Homo sapiens: one gene and its partners. The protein of the gene in region 4 purifies or fractionates together with the protein of the main gene of each other region. This does not show direct contact. Each region holds a gene or a part of one and is shown on either strand. Other genes may lie near its edges.

Evidence for each region.
Region 1: the proteins of PARP12 (region 4) and SIRT5 purify together in Homo sapiens (affinity purification with mass spectrometry; one large-scale study listed by BioGRID and IntAct). This does not show direct contact.
Region 2: the proteins of PARP12 (region 4) and ELAVL2 purify together in Homo sapiens (co-immunoprecipitation; one large-scale study listed by IntAct). This does not show direct contact.
Region 3: the proteins of PARP12 (region 4) and CCDC80 purify together in Homo sapiens (co-immunoprecipitation; one large-scale study listed by IntAct). This does not show direct contact.
Region 5: the proteins of PARP12 (region 4) and PARP9 purify together in Homo sapiens (co-immunoprecipitation; one large-scale study listed by IntAct). This does not show direct contact.
Region 6: the proteins of PARP12 (region 4) and PPWD1 purify together in Homo sapiens (co-immunoprecipitation; one large-scale study listed by IntAct). This does not show direct contact.
Region 7: the proteins of PARP12 (region 4) and QKI purify together in Homo sapiens (co-immunoprecipitation; one large-scale study listed by IntAct). This does not show direct contact.

The regions. Positions count from the first base shown.
Region 1 is NC_000006.12:13,577,601-13,581,100, reverse strand, and holds part of SIRT5 (NAD-dependent protein deacylase sirtuin-5, mitochondrial), read right to left. Parts: intron 2,330-3,500; exon of another isoform or gene 2,268-2,329; intron 1,651-2,267; 5' UTR 1,492-1,650; intron 1-1,491. UniProt on the Homo sapiens protein: NAD-dependent lysine demalonylase, desuccinylase and deglutarylase that specifically removes malonyl, succinyl and glutaryl groups on target proteins.
Region 2 is NC_000009.12:23,819,741-23,823,240, forward strand, and holds part of ELAVL2 (ELAV-like protein 2), read right to left. Parts: intron 3,393-3,500; exon of another isoform or gene 3,026-3,392; intron 2,816-3,025; exon of another isoform or gene 2,623-2,815; intron 2,081-2,622; exon of another isoform or gene 1,865-2,080; intron 1,570-1,864; exon of another isoform or gene 1,487-1,569; intron 1,417-1,486; exon of another isoform or gene 1,195-1,416; intron 1-1,194.
Region 3 is NC_000003.12:112,631,144-112,634,643, forward strand, and holds part of CCDC80 (coiled-coil domain-containing protein 80 precursor), read right to left. Parts: intron 1-3,500. UniProt on the Homo sapiens protein: Promotes cell adhesion and matrix assembly.
Region 4 is NC_000007.14:140,031,952-140,035,451, forward strand, and holds part of PARP12 (protein mono-ADP-ribosyltransferase PARP12), read right to left. Parts: intron 2,381-3,500; coding exon 2,284-2,380; intron 2,131-2,283; coding exon of another isoform or gene 2,088-2,130; exon of another isoform or gene 564-2,087; intron 1-563.
Region 5 is NC_000003.12:122,554,301-122,557,800, forward strand, and holds part of PARP9 (protein mono-ADP-ribosyltransferase PARP9), read right to left. Parts: intron 1,822-3,500; coding exon 986-1,821; intron 1-985.
Region 6 is NC_000005.10:65,562,016-65,566,095, reverse strand, and holds the start of PPWD1 (peptidylprolyl isomerase domain and WD repeat-containing protein 1), read right to left. Parts: upstream 2,801-4,080; 5' UTR 2,786-2,800; coding exon 2,590-2,785; intron 2,294-2,589; coding exon of another isoform or gene 2,257-2,293; intron 1-2,256. UniProt on the Homo sapiens protein: PPIase that catalyzes the cis-trans isomerization of proline imidic peptide bonds in oligopeptides and may therefore assist protein folding. May be involved in pre-mRNA splicing.
Region 7 is NC_000006.12:163,561,218-163,564,717, reverse strand, and holds part of QKI (KH domain-containing RNA-binding protein QKI), read right to left. Parts: intron 2,737-3,500; coding exon 2,649-2,736; intron 1,299-2,648; coding exon 999-1,298; coding exon of another isoform or gene 973-998; exon of another isoform or gene 52-972; coding exon of another isoform or gene 8-51; exon of another isoform or gene 1-7. UniProt on the Homo sapiens protein: RNA reader protein, which recognizes and binds specific RNAs, thereby regulating RNA metabolic processes, such as pre-mRNA splicing, circular RNA (circRNA) formation, mRNA export, mRNA stability and/or translation.

The DNA of each region.
Region 1 (3,500 bases), on a different chromosome or scaffold from region 4:
GCACTCTAGTTAGGTAAGATGTGAACATTAGAGGAAATTGGGTAAATGGTATAATGAGAACTCTGTGTACTATTTTTGCAACATTTCTGTAAGCCTAAAATTATTTCAAAATAAAATTGCTTCACAACAAGAAAAAAAAGGGCCAGCCATGGTGGCACACACCTGTAATCCCAGGACTTTGGGAGGCTGAGGCAGGAGGATCACTTGAGCCCAGGAGTTCGAGACCAGCCTGGGCAACAAAGTGAGACCCCATCTCTACAAAAAAGTAGCTGGGCATGGCAGTGCATGCCTATGGTCCCAGCTACTCAGGAGGCTGAGGTAGGAGGATCACTTGAGCCCAGAAGGTTGAGGCTGCAGTGAGTCATGATTGTGCCACTGGACTCCCTGCCTGGGTGAGTGAGACCCTGTCAAAGAAAGGAGAGAAGGCCAGAGCAGGAGCGAGAGTGAGGGAGAAAGAGAGAAAGAGAAAAAGAGAGGAAGAAACAGAGGGAGGGAGAGGGAAAGAGAGACAGAGAAGCATTATGCTAAGTGAAAGAAGCCAGATACAAAAGGCTACATAGTTTTTGAGACCATTTATAAGACATTTTAAAAAGGCAAAACTGTTGGTACAGAAATCACACCAGTGGTTTCCAGGGACAGGGGTCGGGGGAGTAAGGGGGAGCAGAGAAATTTTTAGAGCAACGTAAAATTACATTATCTTTATTTTTGTGATTTTTTTCAACACTCATAGAACTGTATAATAAAAAGCGTGAATTTTACAGTGCGTAAGGAGTAATATGATAAACCTCACCTACAAATAAGCAAGCAAGTCAACACGTTTTCAATGTATCCTGTCTCTTCTGCAATCAAAAAGACTGTAGAAGAAGATTGACACTCAAAAAGAGAAGAGGTTAGAGAAACATGGTGTAGTGTCTCCAGAACAACCTCAGGGGACAAGGCTGTCTGGCTGCCTAAAGTTACTTCTGCAGGGAAGGCAGGCAGACTGGCTGCTAGAGGGAAGTGAACAGACTCATGGGCCCCAGCAGCCACTCTGGTGAGCAGCTCCCAGACTCAGTGACAATGGTGACATCCAACCAACATGAATATCACTCCAGTGCTTGATTTAAAGAAAGCTTGAGGAAAATGGATTGCCATGATCTTCAACTAGCATGGGCATGATAAACTTTTGACAAACTTCAATTTACCTGGAAAACTCAGTAAGGAACAAATGAGGTGTTAATATAGTTTGTGGGTTTTTTGTTAAAATCTGGAAAAACTTAAACATATACAAAAATAAACAGTGTAGTATGGGGAACCCTTATATTCTTATCACCCAGCTTCAATAATTAGGGGCATGAAGTTTTAAAAATATCGTTAGAGATGACAATTATTAAACTTGCATGTCATGAAAATTGTGAAGATCAAAACTCTGAATACTGCCTAACAGTAACTAAAAGCTTCTTATATGCTGCATGAAGTTACTTAGGCTATCATCTTGAGCTTAATACATACCTTTAGTTATTTCTCCCAAAATGAAGATGGTTGTCTCCACGGCTGCTTTCTAATATATTTGAATCTGGAGACATCAATATAATACAGACTTCTAATTTGATCCAGAAAATTATTTTCTTCTTCTGTAGGTTTTTATATGTTAGAAAACATTTCCATTTACTGTAAAAGAATTCAAAAAAACTACTGAATAAACTGTCATTTTTTTTTATCAGGCATGAAGGTAGGATTGTAAAAGTCATTAAGAATTTAAAAGAAATTAAGAACAATGTCACCTGGAATTATTCCCAAGATCGTAAATGTTCATAACATAAAACTATTTTCTTAGTCTTTATTTGCGACTACAAAGTATTTTAAGACTAAAAGTCTAAATACAATTTAGTATTTGCTACTAAATAGTCTTTTAAGATACTACTACAAAGTCTTTATTGAAAACATCCTTTGTGCCAACATGTATCTGCTTTTCCAGGGTGTCAGGGCAGGCAGTGGTTCTAGTTTCCACAAGGTTACAACCCTGTTCAAATTTAGAAGCAATGTCAGAAGGGTGACAAGGCACCATTGTGACAGTTAGAGGAAAGAGGACTCAGGGTGAAAGTTACCCTGGGTGAAGACTCCTGCCTTGATTTTATCTTCCAGGTGGGAAAAGAGGCCTTGAGGGAGGAAATAAACTCATTGATCAGTCATTGGGAGCTTTTTGGGTGCTAGGCAGGTTCTTATAAATTGACATTAATCCAAGTAATGTCATTTAACGATGCCTTTTCATGAAATCTGAAACTCACCTAACAGATTTTTTTTAAAAGCCTGTATGTTCTCTGTGAAAAAGGGGGGCACCCTACCAATTCTGAAAGATAGAAGTGAAAGATTATATCAGAAATTTGAGGGAAAAAAATTTACAGAAAACTCAGAACCTGATGGCTTCACTGATGACCTGAATTCTACCAAACATTTAAAGCAGAACTAATACCAATTATTTTCTTTTTTTTTTTTTTTTTTTTTGAGATGGAGTCTCGCTCTGTCCCCCCAGCTGCAGTGCAGTGGCGCCGTCTCCACTTACTGCAAGCTCCACCTCCCGGGTTCATGCCATTCTGCCTCAGCCTCCCGAGTAGCTGGGACTACAAGCAACCGACACCACGCCCGGCTAATTTTTTGTATTTTTAGTAGAGACGGGGTTTCACCGTGTTAGCCAGGATGGTCTCGATCTCCTGACCTCGTGATCCGCCTGCCTCGGCCTCCCAATACCAATTATTTTCAAACTCTTCTAAAAAACTAAAGAGGAGGAAATACTTCTAAACTCATTTTAGGAGGCCAGTATTACCCTGATACCAAAGCCAGAGAAGGACGTTACAAGAAGAAAAACTACAGACCAATATCCCTGATGAACATAGATGCAAAAATTCTTAACAAAATACTAACAAACTGAATTCACTGACACGTTAAAAGGATCATTCATCATGATTGAGATTTATCCCTGGAATGCAAAGATGGCTCAACATACACAAATCAATAAATGAGATATACCATATTAACAAAATGGAGGACAAAAACTGTATGATCACCTCAAAAGATGCAGTAAAACATGTGACAAAATTCAACATCTTTTCATAATAAAAACTCTCAATAAGTATAGAAGTACTGTGACACAGAAAGACCAAATATGACAAACTCACAGCTAAATCATACTCAACGGTAAAAAGTTGAATGCTTTTCCTCTAAGATCAGGAACAAGACAATGATGCTCACTCTCACATTGTCTATTCAGTGTAGTACTAGATGTCCTAGCCAGAGCAATTATGCAAGGAAAGGAAGTAAGTCATCCAAATAGGAAGGGAAGAATTTTTCTATATATGTTTTCTATATATAAGATCTATATATAATATAGATATGTATATAAAATATAGATATATAATATCTATGTATATAAGATATACAGAGAGATCTATAGGGATATATAAATATATATATAATATAGAGAGACATATAAGATATATGAGATTTCTATATATAAGATGTTA
Region 2 (3,500 bases), on a different chromosome or scaffold from region 4:
CTCTCTCAAAAAGGAAAATTACAAAGGAGGAATCACAGAAAATTTAATGTAACATGTTTCTTCATATTCTAATTTTTCCTACCCCATTCTGGCCTTTATCTTCCAGATGTTTTCTTCCTCTTCTTTCTCTCCCCATAGTTTGCAAGCGAACTTCCCGTAAGTATATCCTCCCCACAACCTTAAGTGTTGTTACCTTAGCATCCCTACAAACCTCCTATAAAGAAGGCCCCTACCACAAATGCAGTAACATTCGGGTCCACTCAGCAATACAGTCACCATTTATATATACCCAAAGGTTACTAAGACAAGGTAGATGCAGGACAGCTTTTCCACCCGCTCACCAAAATGGAAACTCCAGGTCAGCTTCCACAAGAAATGGGAAATTCAAGCGACTCTGGCGAAACGATTCTTGAGAAAACTCTTCAAGGGCAACAAAACAATATTTCAAACAAACAGATTTTACTTGAGGGAATGGGGACATTACACAGCAATTGATATTCGAATGGTTTTAAATGGACTGATTCGCCGTAAGTTTTGAGGCTGAGCTAAATTTTTATGAAGAATTATTAGGAATAGGGCCACTAGAAAATTAAGTTTTAAAAGCGCTTTTGTCCTTGCCGAAGGTATTACATTTTGGCACTTCTAAGAACCGTTCTTTGAGGGAGGGAATAAAGGAGAGTGGACAACTCGTAGCAAATCCTTTTCCCATGTTTTCAGAAAATGTAGAGACGATAGGACTTGAAAATCTTTGTCATAAAGATGGTCTTTAAAAATGCACACAATTCTAAATGACCATCTGGGCAGCTACAACTGCATGCTCATAGCTCGCATCTAGAGGCATGGTTTTACGCTCTGGCCCTGAAGGATAACAAGGAGGCTTTTAAGGAAATGCCGTGAGAAAGACTGCTGGCTAAGCATTGTCACGGCCACTGGAGGAGCACCTGCCAGTGAACCGACGCTGGCTCCCCCAGTCTCACCAGTGCACGCACACTAGTCCGTGCACCCCGGCCGCCGCTGGCAGGCCCTACCAGCCAAGCTGGAGGAGCAGCTGCCGCAACCACGGCAAGCGAACTGAAATCCCAGAGCCGGCCTCGCCCGGCAGAGCGCCCGCGCTTCCCGCGCAGCGCACGCCTCGCGCGCAAACCCGAGATGTGACCGCGAGCTGCGACCTCGCGCGGCTGCGACGGGCCTCACCTAACGCGCACGAGGGGATCATCATTGCTCCTGCCCTGGGCGCCCGCGGCCCTACACCACCTCCGCACACAACGCGGCCGGTGTTAAGTCTCCAAACGCCCCGAGAGCTCCAAGGACCGCGCGCGCGAAGGCGCCGTAGCAAGTGGGCACACACCAGACACCACCCCGGCGTGTTCCGCGGGAGAAGCCAGTGCACACATCCTCCCGCAAGGCGGGGTTGCCAGTGCAACACAGGAATCCTGCCCTTTTTCTAGAAAAGCCCCCTCCCCCACTTTCCCTCCAATACACTCACCTGCGTCTCAACAGTTTCCTTCTTGCGCTACACGCGGCCGCACCCGGGCACGTCCACGCCCGTGCACGCTGCCAGGCGCGACTGTCCCCGCTCGGCTCCCGCCGCCCCCAACCTGCTTGTGCCCACGGGAGGGGCGGTGCCACCTCCCGAGGCGCCCAATTCTCTCTACTCCCGCCGCAACGGGCTGAGCTCTAGGAACTTCGCGGGCACAACCTCCGCCGCCCCCACCAGTGTTCCCGCCCAGAGTTCGGACTAGGGCGCACCACCCCTACCCTGCTAGACGCAGCGGGGGCGCGCACAGACCTTAGCCTCGGCGTCCAAAATGGACCAGGGGCAAGGCGCGGACGCCGTCCCCGCCCCCACGCCCCCAGCACTTGCCTGCTGTGACTCGAAGCTGCAGCTACTACGGCTCGTGCCGCTGGCCGTCAGCACTGCCGCGGAGGAGTCGCTCGGGGCGAGCTCCGCGGAGAGGCGGTGGCGGCGGCGGCGGCGGGAAAGGGGACTGGAAGCCGGCGGAACCCCCGCCCCACCCGCGCCGCGCCGCGCCGCGCCGGCAACCGCCCTCCTCACCCGGCCGGCTACTGCCTCAGTGACGCCCAGGCGCCGCGGTCCCGCCGTTTGTAGCGGGGCGGGAAGGAGGGGCTTGCTTGGAAGAGCGCCAGGAGGCGGGGCCGGCGGCGAGTTCGCGGCGCCGCGGCCGCCGCCGGCGCGTGCCCTGCCCGACCGCCCTTCGGGTCCGTGCCGGCAGGGAGATGCCGGGCTTCAGCAGCTCAGCTCCGTCCCTCCGGACTTCCGAGTCTCACCAGGCTTCCCCGACAAGGTTTCTCTGGACTCGGTGGAGAGCGTTGAGCGCCCAGAGGAGGCTGATTCCAGGTGCAAGTTTGCAAATCCCGAGGCCCGGGGCGCTAACGGGGAGTCAGAGCAGCTAACGTGGGGGTTACTTTATGTGTTCATAAATGTATTTATAAATATATATAAGTATACACACATATGTGTGTCTCTTTTAAAAATTCTCTTTTTCCCCCTACTTCGCAGCCAAGGGGTCCTGTCCCTGGACAGAAAATAAAGGCTTAGCCCCCTGCTGCCCCTCCCTGCCTCTCTAGAGAGAACCTGACGTTTAAATAAGCCCAGAGTACCTGTGCGGGGTGCTGTACTCTGCTTCAAACGCAAAGTAGGAAATCCTGCACTCGACTATGCAAACGCTTGCCGCTAGCCGCATCCTTCTATCGCCCCCCAACTCAAGACCCGAAATGGCCAACTCTTCACCGAGGGGGCGTCCCATCGCTGCCTTGCCTTGGCCCGCCCCTTCGCCAAGCTCAATCCCTTTTCCCCAGAAAAACCTGTGCCTGTCCTCAGACCCGGCCCCACGGCTGGAAGTCAAAACCCACCCCGGAGCCACGCGGCTGGAGCACGTTTTTACACCTGCTCGGCCGCTTAATTACGAGAGCACCTGTAGTTGGGATTTTTTTCATTGCAAAGGCATCGATTTTAGCCCTTCTCCTAAAATACTACATTTAAAAAATCACCTGTCATACCTACCTGAAATTGTAGGAGGTAAGAGAAAGGAACCGAGCAGTGGGCGACCCAGTCGCCGCAAGAACGTGACCGAGGTTACAGCTTCAAGGGCATGATGCAGGTTTGATGCAGCAAGGTCCGCTAAGGGCGTCCAGCGCTCCCCGCCCCCATGCGACGGGCGGAGCGGGGTTGGGGGGAAGGGAGGGGACTCGTCTAACCCAGGGCGGGTGTGGGAGAGGCAAATTTGCCCTCTTGGGCGAAGTCTAATCAGCATAGTGAAGTAGGGGGCTCAACCAAGGTCAAAAGCGAGATAGGCCATCCCTTAATTTGTGCGACCCAGTCTGGGGACACCGGATACAGCTAACTGATTCTATATCAGCATTTCCGTGTCACCCCAAATCCGATTTGCAATTAAATGACCTTAATTGACTTTGTGTGGGTTCCTGGGAAAACTGCTCAAAGCGCCTGCGCCTCTTTGACCTCTCAGTAAATAGTTAAT
Region 3 (3,500 bases), on a different chromosome or scaffold from region 4:
TCTGAGAACGTCTCACTATTTTTATCTAACCTAATACAAAAGCTTCTCTACTCTCTTGATTAATTTAGCTGCCCTTCCCTGAGCCTTCTCCAATTTTACCAATTTTACTCAATCCTTGAGCTGAAGCTAGAACTCTGTTCCACATCCCACAAGCTAGTGGGCATAATGCTGCTTACCTTGGAGGTGGGAGGATGTGAAATTTTATTGTGATGATGACCAGGTCTTTGTTGAGATCCTTGATCCCAAATAGATCACCAGGCTGATGTCTGCAATGAACGCTGTCTATTTGCCCTTTGTTGCATCATCACTAAGCTCAGAAGCAAACCTCTATAAATCATTTTTCTGTAAACAACTTTTTGCATTTGACTAAATACAAATTTATCAGCCAATTTTCTTGCATTTGACTACATTCAAATGTATCAACCAACTTTCTATTTATCCGCCTAAACTTATAAACTATTTCCGATATTTATGACTATTACCTTGGCATTTTTCAGAGGGCAAATCACCAGGCTGTGTACCTCTTCCAAATATTTTATCAAAAATGGTTAATAAATCTGGTCTCAGCTTGATCCTGCTGTTTATTTTTCTCTGTCAGAGATGTCTGTATTGCTACCTGCAGGCTTTCCCTTCTAAGAATTCTCCCCGCATGACAAAATACTCTCCCTCAAGGAAATTAAACGTGTTCAATAGCCTTTGAATGGAACGTTAACAAAGGTTTTCTGGGATGAAGTTTTTGTTTTGTTTTGTTTTGTTTTTCAGATCATAATTAATTTTAAATAGACATGCTTTAGTTTATTTTTCATGTGTTTCTATGCCTGCTCATACGGACATTCTGGGTAGGAAATGCTTGTTTTAGGAACATAATTTTTTAAGGGGAAAAACAAAATTTCTCCAAATTTATTCATTGATTCACATTAGCCTTAAAACAAGATTAAAGGCAGCTATAAAAAGATGTGGTGATGGTATTTTTAGTTGCTTGGTTTGTTTTTAATTAGCTTTATGGCATCTGAAAATATTTCTTCAGATCTTGATGGGAGCGCAGATACCAAAGTTTTATTTTAAGTTGGTATATTTTAGGTCTTTTTTTCTGACTGTTTTGTGCTCAAAACCACACTATTCTGAAATAAATAAAATGAATGTTTAAGTAAAAACACAAAACAGTAAAAACAAAGGTAAGAGAAAGGGACTTACTGTTCATGGTTTTGGACTCCCTATTCTAAATTAAGGATAAGCCATATTTAGAATATATTTAGAGGAGTTTCTAGGGCAAAGCTGCTTAGATGTTAGATGACAGAAAATTATCTGTTTCTGTAACTTCAAATTCATACATAGATTCCATTTCATTCATACCATACTTTGCCATAGACCCTTACAATCTGTGGACAGATCACGGTATGACAGGATTTTAAGAGTCCTCAACCCTCCTCTAGTCTTCTCCCCCTTGTGTATATTAAGGATATCAGACAGTATGTAATCACACAGAACCTTATCCTCCCCTGTGTGGTAGGTTCTCCCACATAGCTCTATACACAGTGGCATGAGGCCATGGATACCCAGTGGGAATCTCATTTAAATAAATAAGTGCCTCTGATGTTTATTTTCACTGCAGACCCTTTGCCCAAGAATGCCTTTAACCACCAGTGGGGTGACATTCGTTTTGCAGGACTCATTCTCTAACTTCCGGCCCTCCACGTTCTGGCCCCGGGCTCTCTTTTGCTAATGTCCTCCTATACCTCCCTTACCTGACCTCTTTACCCCCTAGAGCCAGACCCAGTCTAAATTAGGAAATGAAAGGAATCTTGGGCAGAGAGGCATAGAGAAAGAATAATTGCAGTCAAAGTCAGGGGGCTGTCATTTCGGTCCTAGTTCAGCTCCTGGCTAGCTTGTAGCCTAAATAAATCCACTTAATCTTCTGAAGCTCAGCATTGTCATTGTTATAATGAATCAACTTTCCTGCCAACCTCATCACGTTGTGAGATCTGAGCAAAAGTAAATATATCTGTATATCTTTATAAGATCATAACATGAACTTATTACAGATTGATTTATTCTTAATAAATAAATATGTGTCCCCCAAGCACATACAGGTATGTCACCTCTGAATAATTCACCCACAATCCTTCCTCTGTCTTTGCCCAAGTCACTCCTTCTACCTCAGAAACCTGCCCCCGCCCTTCTCTAAATCTCATTCTTTCTTTCAATGCATTATCCTCCTTAAAGTCTTTTCTAGCATGCAGGGATCACTTCCTCCTTTTAATTACTGTTCTTTTTGTCTGCCTCGCCCACTTGGAATTTAAGCATTTCCTTCATTTACTATATAACTGTCACATCTCCCCAGGCAGAATGTAAGTTCCTCAGACTCTATTACTGTCCTGCAGATGGTGGGGGCATAAATGCTGGCCAACACTCCTCCGGTTATATAGATCACCCTAGTCAGAGGAGAGGAGAGGGACTCAGGAATAAAGGGGTCCCCTGGTTGTTGTGAATGTCTAGATGCAGGCTACGACTTTACCAGTTGGTGAAAACACTCTCCCTTACATTTAATCTGCTCCTCAAGTTTGCAACAGAGAAAATAGAGAAGACTGACCATCTGAACCCATTTCAGGGACTCTTTCCCTATGTTTTGACATCTCCATCCCATTCACTTTCTAGTTGGGCTGTATTTCAGACAGTGTTTAAAATGAGAACCATTTCCAGTCCCCTCTTCCTAAAAAGAGCAGCTTAAAGCTCCTCAGTAAACACTATTTTCTGTCACTTGGCCTCTTTCCAGTTTGATGGCAATAAATCAGGGCATGTATCATGAATTTAGACCTGTGTTGTATTTCTTTTTCATGGCTTCTGTTCCAACTGGTGTGTTGGCTCAATGAGCCTCAGAGGATAAGGAAGCCTGTTTGCATAAGTAAAGAGAGCAAAGAGCAATGGAAAAAAGCTAGAGGGAAGACACTTTAAGTCTCAGATTATTCAAAATACTGCGTTAGGCTCAAAATGCTAGATTTTTTTTTACAGGATTCTGAAAAATAACTTTCAAGCTAATAGTCTGCCTTAGTACAGCAGGAAACCTTAAATTCTTTCCTAAAATTAAACCAAATAAGTAGATGGTTGTCCTAATACACAGATGTCTGAAGTAAAGTTGGAAATATGAACCCACTTGAATTACAGGAGATTCAGTCACCAAAGAATTCTTAAATTTGCACTTGAATTCATTGAATTCAGCATTTGAGGTCCCTTGTTAATTGACAAGTGACTAGATCTCAGAGCGCAGAATGATGGCTTCTCAGCTATACTCCCCATAGTACAATGTTTTGGTGATAAGCTTACCTATAGTCTCACTATCGTCAACCTCAAACTGACACCAAGCAGACTGAAGAATTAGGTTAACTGGAATCCAATCTATTGTTTTTGACTGACTGTTTGGAAAGCCAGAGAATTGAGTGCAGAGGACTAGCTGCGTATTAAAGGCAGAAACTCCACATTTGTGCTTAGCAATCATTTACCAC
Region 4 (3,500 bases):
GCAAACAACAAACTAAGAGAAAATATTTGCCATTTATATAACAAAACGAGGGCCAACCTCCCTAATAGATAAAAGGCTCTTGATATTTAAGAAAAATACCAGAAAGTTGATAGAAAAATGGATAAAAAGACCAACAGTCCACAGAAAAAGAAGCAAAAATGGCACTTACATGTTAGAAATAATATTCAACCTCACTCCTAAGAGAGAGCAAACTGAAGTCCACTGACCCATCTTTACCCCTGAGAAATGCAAAAGCCCAAGAGCCTGACAACTCACTCTGTGGCATCTCATGCGTCCTAGTGGGTGTGCATAATGATTCAAGCCCATGGAAAGGAATTTGGTTTACTTCCTACGACTCTGACCTAACAGTCGACCTCCAAAATTTGTTTTTTTTAATTAAAAAAAAAAAGAGACAGGGTCTCGCTATGTTGCCCAGGTTGGTCTCAAACTCCTGGGCTCAAGCGATCCTTCCATCTTGGCCTCCCAAAGTGCTGGGATTATAGGTGTGCACCACCGCACCTGGCCATACCTCCAAAATTTGAAACAGCACATACATCAAATGGTTCATCACGACATTATACTTTTTAATAGCAAAAGACTGAAAACAACACAAACATCCATGAAAAGGGGACATATTAAGTAAACTATGGTACATACATATTACAGAGAACCAGGAAAGAAGAAACGGATTGAGGAAGTTAATGAATTGAAACAAAGTGATTATCATGATCTATTTTTAAGTGAAAACAAAAAAGGGTATAGAACAGTATAGATAGCATGTTCCCTTTTGTGCAAGAAGAAAATACTTTTATATGTATGTATGCAAATGCTTATTTTTGCAAAGAGAAACATAAAAAAGAGAAACCGGAAACTAATGTTACCCACAGTGGGAACAGGGTAGAGATAACAGGGAGGAAGTTACAGTCTACAGAGGATACCATTTTATATAGGTTTGACTTTTAATCACGTGAAGGTTTTACACATAGTCAAAAACAATAATAATAATAATTATTATTTTTGAGACGGGTCTCACTCTGTCACCCAGGCTGGAGTGCAGTGGTGTGATCTTGGCTCACTACGGCCTTGACCTCCCTGGGCTCAGGTGTCTCTCCCACCTCAGTCTCCTGAGTAGCTGGGACTACAGGCGCACAGGCTGGTCTCGAACTCCTGGGCTCAAGCAATCTACCCGCCTCGGCCTCTTGAACTGTTGGGATTACAGGTGTGAGTCACTGCACCCAGCGCAAAAATAAATTTTAATTTAAAAAGGAAAAAGTAAGGCACATTCCCAGGAAATTACTTTGCTAGGTCTGACTCACAAGGCAGTTTCGTGGACTGATAATACCTTTCTCCTCTATCTTGTACCAAACTCATTTAAAAACGACCTTTGCATGCTTCACAAAACAAAAGAACCAAAAGAGACATTGTTGGTTCTCCATAAAATAGACACAAGCCAGACCTCTCAGGCGAACAGAAGGTGCAGCCAGCTACCAGTAACACTGCCTAAAGTCCCAGCACTGGCTCTGGCAAGCCCAAACTGTATGGGCACTGTGGTCCCTCTCCACCATGCAGGCCACCTTCCCCCAATATGTGGCTGTGTGGTTTGGAGAACACTGACCCCTTCCTCTCAGTTCCAATCCCATCCCACCTCCCCAAGCCTAAAATAACACCAGAGGTTGAGATAGGGTCTGATCAGTACAAAGCACAAGAATTTCCCCTCATCTGCTATAGGAGGTTTCTCTCCTCCCTTCTAGGGGCTCACAGGCCACAGGCTAACCTGGTGGCTCCTGGCAGCCATCTTGGGACTGAAAGAAACTCACCCTGACGAAGCTCGCCCATTAGTGACTGCAATATCTGTTTTTAGAGTTTTGGTATTCCGTGATATTCAAATACTAAAATACATGAGTTTTTATTGGTGTAATTCCATCATTATTTCATTATTTCAACATTTAAAAAATTCAAGTCTATGACTCAATGATTCCACAGAAAAGACAAACGGATGGGTTGGCTTCAAGTCTAGACTCGCCTTCAGAGTCTGTCTTCTCCAGAGAATCATCGCAGATCACAACAGGCAGCCTTCTAATTATGCATCACGAAGCTTCTACCCACAGGGTAATTCCCACTCTGGTCCAACTAGTAGAAGACAAACGATAACAGAGTGTGGGAGCACTTCGTTGTACAAGCCAACGGTGCCCGGGTGCTGTCTGAGGCAGGTTTTCTGTCACCACTGCAGAGCACACCCCAGCTGATTACATCCTAAGTACCAAGCCCCCCACTGCAACCTACCAGGTTTGCATGGTCGTCACATCCTGGGGAGACACGTATTTGGGTCTGCGGCAAACCTTTTTAGTTGTGCCATAGACCAGGTTTTTCTGAACGAAGGCTGAAAAAAAACATAACCAGTGAAAAAATATACATATACATATACATACACACAGGATGGCAATGTTTTATAAACACAAATTAGATAGATTTGAAAGCTTATCCAAATGTGTAAAACCCAGAATCAGTCTGTTAAAAATAGGGCCATTTTACACATTTCAAATATTCATAAAGAAAATAGGTATCCTTAGGAGACTGGGTTTAATGAATAGAGGAATGATTAGTAATTGACATATCAATTACACATGAGTGCTTTTAAATTGTTCCTTCCAATCTTGTTTAAACCATTATTTTGCTTGGCAATTTTTCCCAGCTTGGATATAAAAAAGCCTCAGCCCAGCCTGAGATCAAACTACCATGTCTTGAGTTAGTGGGATTCAGAGTTAATGTAAGTTTTATGACTTTGTTTTAGTTAAACTATGGCAGTATTCATCAACCTTTCTAAACCAATAATATCTTTAATAAACAAATTTCTTGCTTCCCCACCCTCAAGAATCCCATACTCATCCTGAGGATTTGGGGTTGGGGGAACTGGCCCCTCAAGTTGAAAAATGACAAATACCTAGCAGTGTTTGTTCTGTCCTTGCCTGCCAGGAAAACCCTCTCAAGTCTTACATTTTTTTTAAGAGATGGGGTCTTTTGCTTTGTTGCTCAAGTGGACCTTGAACTCACCAGCTCAAGTAATCCTCCCACCTCAGCCTCCCAAGTAGCTGGGACTACAGGTTTGTGACACCATGCCCAACTAATTTTGTTTTCATTTACAAAACATTTTAATATTAAAAATTATAGGTGTCCAGAATTAGCCTTATTGCAGTTGAGCATAAACTGGATGGTTATCCAAGTGTGTGTCTCTTAGGTTGCAGCTGAGATGGTCACTATTCCTGGAGGTCCATCCACATTCTCATTCAGAGCCCATGATCCAGATGCAGCAACCATGACCCCTTCTGTTACCCACTACTCAGCCGCCCATCAAGACCATTCTCACTGGCATATTTAAATGGGTGTTACTGGCCTACTGGCCATCTGTGATGAATCTTAAATGGCTTTCACTGGTGAAATTAAAAGTGAGCTAAGATACGTGGACTGGCTAAATGTGTGTCAGACACATTCCCTACCCTTCT
Region 5 (3,500 bases), on a different chromosome or scaffold from region 4:
CTATACTCCACTCTTGTCACAAATTTACATACTCTTAAGTATTATTTTTGTTTACTATTGATAGGTTGCTTCAGAAATGTTGAGATGGTTTTTCTCCCCAGAGAGATTTTTCAAATAAAGAATATTTTTATAATAAAGAATATAATTGATTTTAGGTTCCTTGGGATCAAAGATTGTTCTAATTCCTCCGGGTGCCTAAGATAATAGCAACAGCCATAATAATGATAAATACTTATTATGTGCCAAGCACTACTCTAAGCATTTTATGTATATTGATCCCAGCTCTAAGATATAAATGCTATTATTATCCTCAATGTACAAATGAGGAAACTGAAGAACAAAAGATAAAGTAACTTGCTTTGGGTTACCCAGTTAATAAATAGCAAAGCTGGTATTCAAATCCAGATGGCCTGGCACTGAATGCTATATTATTATTATTATTATTTTTAGAGTCAAAGTCAAAGTCTTGCTCTGTTGCCCTGGCAGGAATCACTGCAGCCTTGAACTCATGGGCTCAAGTGCGCCTCCTGCCTTAGTCTCCCAAAGTAGTTGGGACTACAGATGTGCATCACCATGCCCTGATAATTTTTTTTTTTTTTTGAGACAGGGTCTTGCTATGTTCCTCAGGCTGGTCTTGAACACCTGGGCTCAAGTGATCCTCCTGTCTCAACCTCCCAAAGTGCTGGGATTATAGGCATGAGCCACCATGACCAGCCTATTTTAAAAAAAAACTTAAATTAAAATTTTTTAAAGAGATGGGGTCTGGGTATGTTGCCTAGGCTGGCCTCCAACTCCTGGGCTCAAATGGTCCTCCAACCTCAGGCTCTCAAGTAGCTGGGTTACAGGCATGTACCACTGCATCTGGCTCATATTCTTAATCCAAACAAGATGGTTTCTACATAGTGTTGCATAGTGTACACTCAAAAATTATTTAATTTTCAGGGATCACCTGTGCCAGTGCAAGAGAATAGAAACAAAGACTTACCGTCTGCCATTCAATGTGGCCCTGGACAATCTGGAGGGTCAGGTTGTTCACGACCATTGCATTGAAAGAAGGGGTGGTTTCTTGTCCCAGCTCACTCTTCCCTAGGATGAATTCTGAAGCAGCTTTAAAGGCAGCAACAGTAGGGTCCTCATTGCTCACCAGGTGAATTTCTTTCAAATTACTCATCATTGGCTTCCCTTGCAAACTAACCCGGATAGTCTCTACAATAGTCTTTGTACACAAATTCAGAGGGAACTGAAAAATCCCAGAGCTCAAGGCTGGAATTGCTACTGTCTTAATGTGAGTATTTTTATAGATGACATAATTCAGAATACTTACAATGGCCCTCTGCAGCTTTCCAGTACATCCCTGTTTATCCCATTCCATCCACCGAGGCCCAACAGCATGGATGATCTGTTTGCAGGGAAGCCTCCCTGCTCCCGTGACAGCTATCTCACCAGCTGACACTTTACCATATCTGGCAACAAACTGTTTGCTCTCTTCTTGGATTTCAAATCCACCAGCTTTTACCAGGGCCAGGGCCAGGCCTCCCCCATGCAGAAGATCTTCATTGGCTGCATTCACCACAGCATCAACAGCATGTGTGGTGAGGTCATCTTTCCAGACTGATAACTCTATCCTAGGAGTCAGCATTTTTCTGAACACTTGCAGAGATTTGCTGTTGCCTTCCTGAACTGGAGAGACCAGGGTAGAGATACAGCCAAACTTATTCTGGAGGACTTCACACAGCTGACGCTCATTATTTTTTAAAATTTTGAAGTCATTGTGGTTAATGGGAATTTGCCAACTATAGTTTTCTCCAAGAGCACCAGTCTCTGGAAAAGAAGAGAAGATTAAAAAAAAAAAAAAAAAAAAAAAAAAAAAAAAGCACAGTTTGAAAGGTTGTAATCCCACTTCATACCAGGAGACTGTGTTTCCTATGTGCAAAAGAGAGATGAACTTCATGTAGTGCTCTTCATGATTCTTCTTCTCAACTACACATATAATTAGACCACGGACATCTAAGAGTTTTCAGTGGTAGGTCACCCATAAAGTGCATAGTCTTGTGCCTGGCATATATTAAGTACTCCATAAGTGGTAGTTACTATGATGCAGTGATGATGGTAGGAAAACCATGTATATGGGGGCTTGTGAATTTTTAAAAATATATATAAAAGTGGCGAGCTTAGAAAGACCAATGCTTAGGGCACAGGTATTGGAAGGGACTTAATTATGAGCCAAAATAGGCGGAGGTTTTATAACTTTTTTGCCTTTGTCAGCATCTAAGTTTATGTTTTCTTAAGAGTAGACCCTGAGACAAAGATGTGAATGTAAGTAGTTTATTTGGGAGGTGATCCTAGGAAATACTAGGGCCTTGGGGTGGGGAGGGCAGGCTGGGAAAGTAAGACAAATGAACAAAGCACGTGTAACTAGGCAGATGGAACTTAACTCTACTGGGAAACAGTGTAGATCTTGTGCCTCAGGGTTATACCACTGGAGGGGTAGTAACCACAGGAGCTGGAGTATTTATCCAACTTCTTTTTCTTTTGAGACAGGGTCTCACTGTGTTGCTCAGGCTGCAGTGTAGTGATGCAGTCTTGGCTCACTGCAACTTCTGCCTCCTATGCTCAAGCCATCCTCCCACCTCAGCCTCCTGAGTAGCCAGGGCTACAGGCTCACAGCACTACACCCACACCATCGTGTCCAGCTAATTTCCGTATTTTTTTCTGTAGAGATGGGGTTTCACCATATTGCCTAGGCTGGTCTCAAACTCCTGATTTCAAGCAATCTGCCCACCTGGGCCGATTGAAATAAGGTAGTATACCTGTTATCAATTGATGGTAAGCCCCAGTTTAGCTGGCATTTTTTCCCCTTTCTCAGAGGCATTTCCCAGAGTGCTCCAAAAGATTCAAGCAATCTGCCCACCTGGGTGGCTTCAAAAAGGCCACCATGCCTGGCCTACCCAACTTCTATTGGTCATTGATTGAGGCAGTTCCCTGGTGAGGAGGAGTAGGGGAGACATTGGACCAGCCAATGAGCACTGATACTGTCTGCTTCAGTTCAGTAAATAATTCTTTATGATATTCTAGTCTGGCACAATTTTGGTGAAATTAAAACTAATTGACTAAAAATTATTTACCGTATGTGGCAGACAAGAAGATGTGCTACTCAGATCTCCCTGCGATTGGCTATGAAGTGGGAAATACAGTTAGCTGACAGCCTCCAGCTGTTAGCCCCTCAGGGTTCATCTCAGCTTTCAGCCAAGGTCATGCTATTCTCAGGGCAGCCTCCATCAGTAGCTGAGCAAGGCCATTCATGCCCAACGTGGGACACCTCTAACAGTCAATCTCAGGCTTGCAGAGACTGTCGGGTTTTTATTACAGTCTGATGGCTAGTCTGCCCAGTCCGGCTTCCTCTCTTTACCTTTCACAGTGAATTTTTTGCACTCCTAATTCCATCTCAAATTCTGCTTCCTGGAGGACCCAGCTTGGGACACTGTATTTCATGGTGTCTA
Region 6 (4,080 bases), on a different chromosome or scaffold from region 4:
ACACAATACGTTCTAGGTCACATGGGCATAAAGAAGAGTAAAACACAGTTCCTGTCCTGAAGAGATATAGTGCTATATAATCATGTCTTTCTGAAAATATATACAACAGTCCAATGTCCAAAGAACATGTTAAAGGGGGTGACTCCATTTCTAGAAAGCTGAAATTGTTAAATACTTGTCCATTTAGACAAAATTTTAAATATTTTTGTAACATTCTATGTATGTTTTTTAGTTTCAATTTTTTTCTTCAAACTGAATAAACTATTGGCTTTTTTTTTTTTTTTTTTTGAGACGGAGTCTTGCTCTGTTGCCCATGCTGAAGTACAGTGGCACAATCTCAGCTCACTGCAACCTCTGCCTCCTGGGTTCAAGTGATTCTCCTGCCTCAGCCTCCTGAATAGCTGAGATTATAGGTGTGCGCCACCACGCCCGGCTAATTTTTTTGTATTTTTAGTAGAGACTGGCGGGGTTTCACCATGTTGGTCAGGCTGGTCTAGAACTCCTGACCTGATGATCTGCCCGCCTCAGCCTCCCAAAGTGCCAGGATTACAGGCATCAGCCACCACACCCGGCCAACTATTGGCTGTCTTAAAACAATAAATAACTGATTAAGAGGAAAGATTTTCACACCTACTAATTTATATCTGTCTCCGTTATATTAAGTTTATAAGACACTTGTCCGGTAACACTAATATCAGCATTTCGATATTTCTGGATTTTTACATTTCTCCTTACTCGTTTAATTAAAAAAGAACTTGCAAAAATATTCATATGCAACAAAATAGCTAAAGACCAGCATAAAAGCTTTAATATGCAGTCATTAAATACTTAGGCAAAGCACTGTACACCAAGCAATGAAACAAAAAAGGCGTGATTCTGGTTCTTACTTGTTTACAGTCTTAGCAGTGGAGAGAAACATTCATCAATCACATGAATAAATATATAATTAGAAACTGCGGCAAGTGCCATAAATAAAATGGTTACTATGGAAACATTTAATAAGAGGACCAGGAAGTAAAAATGATAATGCACTGTAAGGGTGTCAATATACAACGTTCAAAAAAACAGCTTCTTCAAAATTTGGATACATAAAATTTGAAGGCTACCTGTAAATTCAGTATTGATATATAACTACCTCAGAGTTATGATCAAAGTGCTTCAGAAATCCAGTCCAGACTGGAGAAGTCACAGGCTTCCCAGAGAAGATGATAGCTAAGTGCTAAAGGTTGACCAAAAGTCAGTTCAGTGGAAGAGTTGAGGGAAATTATTCCCGGTAGAAACACCATATCTGGGTAGGAATCCAGAGGAAAAAAAAGTACAAGACCGATTCTCGAGTGATTTTAGAATGGGTGGAGTACAAAGTAAGGGGTTGGGAGAGGAAGGTAATGGAAGATGCACTAAGAAGGTAAGGAGAGATCACATCATAAAGGGCTTTATATGCCATGTGAGGGAGTTTGGGCTTTAATGAAAATAATGAGCTGGGCGCCGTGGCTCATGCCTGTAATCCCAGCACTTTTGAGAGGCCGAGGCAGGCAGATTACGAGGTCAAGAAATCAAGACCATCCTGGCCAACATGGTGAAACCCCGTCCCTACTAAAAATACAAAAATTAGCTGGGCGTGCGCCTGTAGCCCCAGCTACTCGGGAGGCTGAGGCAGGAGAATCGCTTGAACCCCGGAGACGGAGGTTGCGGTGAGCCGAGATAGCGCCACTGCATGCGCTCCAGCCTGGGCGACAGAGCGAGACTCCGTCTCAAAAAAAAAAAAAAAAAAAAAAAAGAGAGAGAAAATAATGACAAATCATTGAAGTTTTTTAAGGGAAGGTGCTAAAGTACGATTTGAGCTTAGACCACATTTAAAATGTCTTAAATACTTAAGGAAAACATTTCACAGAAAAACAAGATAACAAAACAACAAAGACAAGAAAACTTAATCTACCCCTTTTCCCACCCCTTTTATTTGATAATAATTTGTGATTATTCCTCGTTAGTGACAAAAAGACTCAGCCCATCGTATCAAGAGCGTGATTTCAAAACCACAGACTTCGGGTTTTGGATGAAAACAAATCTGTGATCTAGGAAGCTTACGTCATTTTCCCTAGATGCGAAAATTTATTAGTGGAAGTGTCAGAGTTGAAATTATCTTTACCTACCATGATTCGAAATAAGCACCGCCTTCCTCTCGCGCCCCAACACATTAATACATTAACACCACTCCTGAACTAAAGCCTTAAAGAGAACTGGTACCCTTTTGCATACCTAAATAAGAGTTCGAAATTCCAACTTCATGTGGCTGCTGTGGGGAGTAAATGAGAGGAGCCAAACACATAAGAATAGGAAAATGTTAGTTTTAGCATCTGTCATAACAAATCAATGATCAAAAGTGTTAGATATTATCAAAAAGACGTTGTACTACGCTTAAATCACTATTTCGTTAAGACATGCAAGTATGGAGTAGCCAGAAGTGAGAGGACGGCCCTCTGTTCTGAGGGCACAAAACTCCACACATCATCCCTCTTCGGATCTGGCTTGAACCCTCCTACTCAGCGGACGCAGCACTCCAATTCGTCCCGGTACTATGTCTGCAGCTACCTTTCCTCTTCTTGGCCAGTGTTGCCTCCACAGGTAAAGGTCCAACCCAGCGCTCTTCGTTCTCCTCATCGTTCTCCTGGGACACCGCCACTGCTACTGCCAGCTCTCTTTCGCTGAGTTCTGTTTTTTCCGGTTCCTCCGGGTCCCGGCGCCTTCTACGTCTCTGCTGAAAATCGCTACCACTTTCCGCCGCCATGTTGTTCGCATCGTCAGAAAAGGCGCGACACAAAACTCAGCTACCAATCCCAAAGCAGCGGCGCAGTCTTCTGTCAGCGTCCGAGCGAGTTTCGGGATTGGCTGGGGTGGGAATGAGCACATCCAATGGGCATGCAGCGCGCGCAGAAGTCCGGGGCTGGCAAGCGCTTCCTGCGCAGCGCCTAGGCGACCTGGAGTTTGTGACGCTGTGATGGTAAGACCTGGGCCGGGGAGGTTGATATAACGGTTGAATCTTGTGGAGCTCCAGTCCTGAAGGTGAAACCCTTATCGCCGGCCAACTAGATACCTGACTTCCCAGCCGGGCTTTGAGTCCCGTTCTTCTCGGCTTCCCGCGCGCCAACGCAAGCTCCATAACCTCACCAATATTTAGAGAAAGATGGAAGGGTGGGGACAGAAGGAAGTGGTTAACTCGCGGGTTTCCTTTCAGATGCACTAAACATGTTTTCTCTCCTGACCTTTATTCTCTCACACACTCTCTGAAGAAGGTGGTGAGTGCTTGTTACTGTTTCTGGGGGTGGGGTGGAGAAGCAGCTACTTCAAATAACCAAAAGACCTAGGGCAGAACGGGTCACTCTTCTTTCTTCTCTCTGGTATAGGATTTCATCTCCTAGCAGTCATCTGAACTCTTTCTCCTCCTCCTCATCTGTCTTCTTCATTTTTAAAAAATTAGGTAAAAAGCACATAACATAAAATGTATTATCTTAATCTCTTTTTTAAAAAATCAAATACAGCTTGTCAAAATGACCTCCGTAAAACACTTCTTTTTTCTCTGCAATTACTTTTGCACCAACCTAATAAAATCCTCGTCGTAAATCTCTTCTCTACTTTTGCCTTGAGATAGGCACCACGTACAGGGAAGGAACTGCCCCCCCATAGTAGGCACTTTATTTTATTTCAAAGGTTCCCATTATTTGACCATTCTACCTAGCAAGTCTCATTTCTTCTCTGCCCTCTGCTCTCATCAGACTACTTTCTTTTGTGTCTCACAAATTTCCCTTGTTCGTTCTTGCCTCCTACTCTTATGTTTTTATGCTTGAAAGCATCTCCACAGCGATTTAGCCTTCATGTTTACAGCTTCTCATCTTTCAGAGACCAATGCAATAATGAGGATGAAGATGATAATGATAATGATAATAATAATGTAGCTAGTTAACATTTATTAAGCATTATTATGGACTAATTCCTTCCGGGTTGGTTTTTCTAAGCTTCCCTATCCTGAATTCCGATAGTACTTGCAGGCAGTGTTGTATACTTTACCATTTCATAGCACTTCTG
Region 7 (3,500 bases), on a different chromosome or scaffold from region 4:
CAGCAAGTCAATGGGCTGAAATATCAGGCATGACTGGCATTTCAATCCACTCTATAAAAAAAAGGCATCAGTAATGTCTTTTTCGAGCACACCACTTTTTGTTCATGTAAAACCAAGCGTTTATATTATGATTTTAATTTCTGCCTTAAGTGAGATTCTGAATTCAGTGATTTGCTATTTATTTAACTATTCCATACTGTACTACTGAAATTAAGAGTATCTCTCATGTTTAATATGACTAGGACTCCAAAACACAAGAACTGAAAAATCTTAAGAATACAACTACAGTCATGCCTGCATAACAACATTTTGGTCAACAACGGACCACTTATACTATGTGGTCCCATAAGATTATAATGGCTATACCACACAGCCTAGGTGTGTAGTAAACGATATCATCTATGTCTGTGTAAGTACACTCTATGATGTACACCAAATGATGAAACTGCCAGACAAGGCAATTCTTAGACTGTATCCCCGTTGTTAAGCGATGCATGACTGTATTTATCTGATATTTTAAGTGATCGCAAATATTACAAAACACACACAATAATATGAATTTTATAAAGCGCTCAGACTACTTTCACTTAGAAGTTTAAAAATTTTCCAACAATTACACAAACCTGTGAGATAAAATAAATCTCAAATAAAGTTTGAGAAGTGGAGCTGATGGAGGTGACGGGCCAATGGGGTGGGACCTAAAACTCAGAATGACCTCAGTAATGTCAAATGTAAAAGTATTTGTTGAAATGTACACAACAGATTTACCCAACCAAACTGAACCTCAGTTACCAAAGTGGATCTGAATAAATTTAAGGTGCAATTATTTCAAAGGGGAACCCTTATGAGAGGCTGAAATAAAACAAAATTTAGTTTTCGGTCTTCCCTAATGCAAACTTGTCTTGCCTCTCTAAAACTGATAAAATCATTTCAAAATCTGAGGGAGCAAAAATATTTATAAAGAGAATGTTGTTAACCCCATGGGGAGAAGAACTTACCTAATACACCACTAGGTTCAATAGGATACTCAAGGATTGATGTAGCTGGTGCCAATGTGTAGGGGTACTCATAGGGTGTATAGATTAAACCAGCTTCGGGCCCTGGAGGAACTATTGCAGCAGTTGGGTGAGGAGTTCCGTTTGGCATGACAGCGGTCTGTATTTGTCTGATCAAAGGCATTATGGTAGGGCCAGCTGGCGTAGGAGTACGCAGGGCAGCTGGTGGGAGAACCGGCGCAGGCCCAGTAATGATCCTTGGAGCAGCCTGGGCTGTTGCTGCAAGAGAAAAGGCAAGGGCTGCTACAGTAAGCAAAGAAATTTAGAAAGAAGTATAGAGACAGCAGTATAAAATACGGAAAAATGAGAAGGGAGTAGGAAAAAGAAAGGAAAAGCAGGAAAGAAGAAAAATAAAAGGAAATCATTAGTACATGCGCTGATCACACAAAAATGCAAAAGCACACCAATCAAATGCAAACAGCTTTCCCTTTCCCAATGTGATTAAGAATGTGCAAAAATTAAAAAGCCATTGTAAAAAAATGAATGACACCATTAAATAGGTTATATTTAGTTCATACATTTGATATATCTAAGATTTCATAAGACTAAAGTACATGCAGAAGCACAATGAAACACTTGCATTAACAGATGTTAAAAAATAATTTGTAACCGGAGTCCACAGAAACTCAGTTTTGGTATATTTCTAAAGTACAGCTTTAGTTTCAAAGTAAAGAAAGAATAATTTTTATTGCATTTAGTCAAGTAACCACTAGGTATATATGTACATTTCCTGCATCTTTAGGAACCAACGTCACAGAAAATCTTAAAAAGCCCTACTTCTAAATTCCTATTAATGATATACTCACATTTTCATGAGTAAATTAATGTCAACAATTTGTAAAGTAACTACTTCTAAACCCACTAGAGGTTGCCTACATCTTCTAAATCTGGCTAGAACTTAAAAATTCTATGTGTTTTAAATAATCAGTAATTTAAACATGGTATGTTCATATAAATGACATGTATGAATCTTAAATTGTTTCAAAATATAAATTTCACATTATTTCATTTTAAACATAAAAAAGCTATCCTCTTACGGCTTATAAAAACATGCATAGATACGCATAAAAACAAAAATAGGACGGAAAAAGAGTTATCACCCACTGATCTCTGTGAACTCACATATGAAATCAACAGGGAAAAATACTAGAGGGAAAACATGCAAGCAAAGTGAAAGGACAGAACTCAACAGAGGGTCATTTCAGTCAGATACACTTCAAATTCACTTTTTCAAAATAAGCTTTCAATATGTTGTCTTTTGCATAAATTTAACAAGATAAGCTGCAAGCCCTACATCTGTAGTTAACCAAACAGAAAATTTCTTAAACACTTGAATTTAGAGATTGTGATTTTGTTAAAATAATGTAAGTTTATCAACCTAAAACTTCAACATGCTGACATAAAATAAAATCAAGAGTGTCCTCAATTCATGAAAGCATTAAAAATAGGACTGTCAGCCCCATATCAAGTGACAGAACAGTTATTTCAACTGTTCACTTTGTATGAACTATTATTGTGTTGCCAAAAGGAAAAAAGTCTGTAGACAAAACAACGCAGACAGCAGTAACCCTGGGCCTCAGAGCTCATTCTTACGTGATTTAATGTTGGCATCTCTGTAGGTGCCATTCAGAATCGCAAGCTCCATCAGCTGCATCTTCTTCAGGCTGTCTTCTCCTTCTGCCTATACATGGAAAACACATGAGATGAAAGCATTTGAGACTGTCCACAAATATAATAGCTATATCTACACACAAGCCTTAAAGTAAGTATCATGTGACTACAGTCACCTGTTTTAATAAGGGGAAAAAAAGATCAAGAACCAAAAGGTGCTAACATAATGGAGCCTGCTTTCTCTGTTTTCTCAGTAAAGGCATGTTGATATACAGCATATTGTATTTGTAAATTTTTTGTCAGTTACACCGATTTATTAAAGTTCCCCTAAAAAGCTTTACTTTTAAATAGAAATGAATGAAAATGTGAGATAAGACTAAACATAACATATTCTCTTCAGCATCTATCATTTTAAAATTACTTTAATTAATTTTATTGTTTTTAGATACAGGGTCTTGCTCTGTTACCCAGGCTGGAGTGCTGTGGCATGATCCTAGCTCACAGCCACCTTGAATTCCTAGGTTCGAGCCATCCTCCTACCTCAGCCTCCGAAGTAGCTGCGACTAGAGGCACGCGCCACCATGCCTGGCTAATTTTTTTTATTTTTTGTAGAGACAAGGTCTCGTTTTGTAGCCCAGGCTGGTCTCAAACTCCTGGCTTCAAGTGATCCTCCTGCTTCAGCCTCCCAAAGTGCTAAGTTTACAAGTGTGAGCCACTGCACCCAGCCAGCAACTATCATTTTGCTGAATATTCCAAAACTCAAATGTGTTCGTTAAACACACACATACACACACGCGCGTGCACATGTGCACACAAATAATTTTAAACATACAA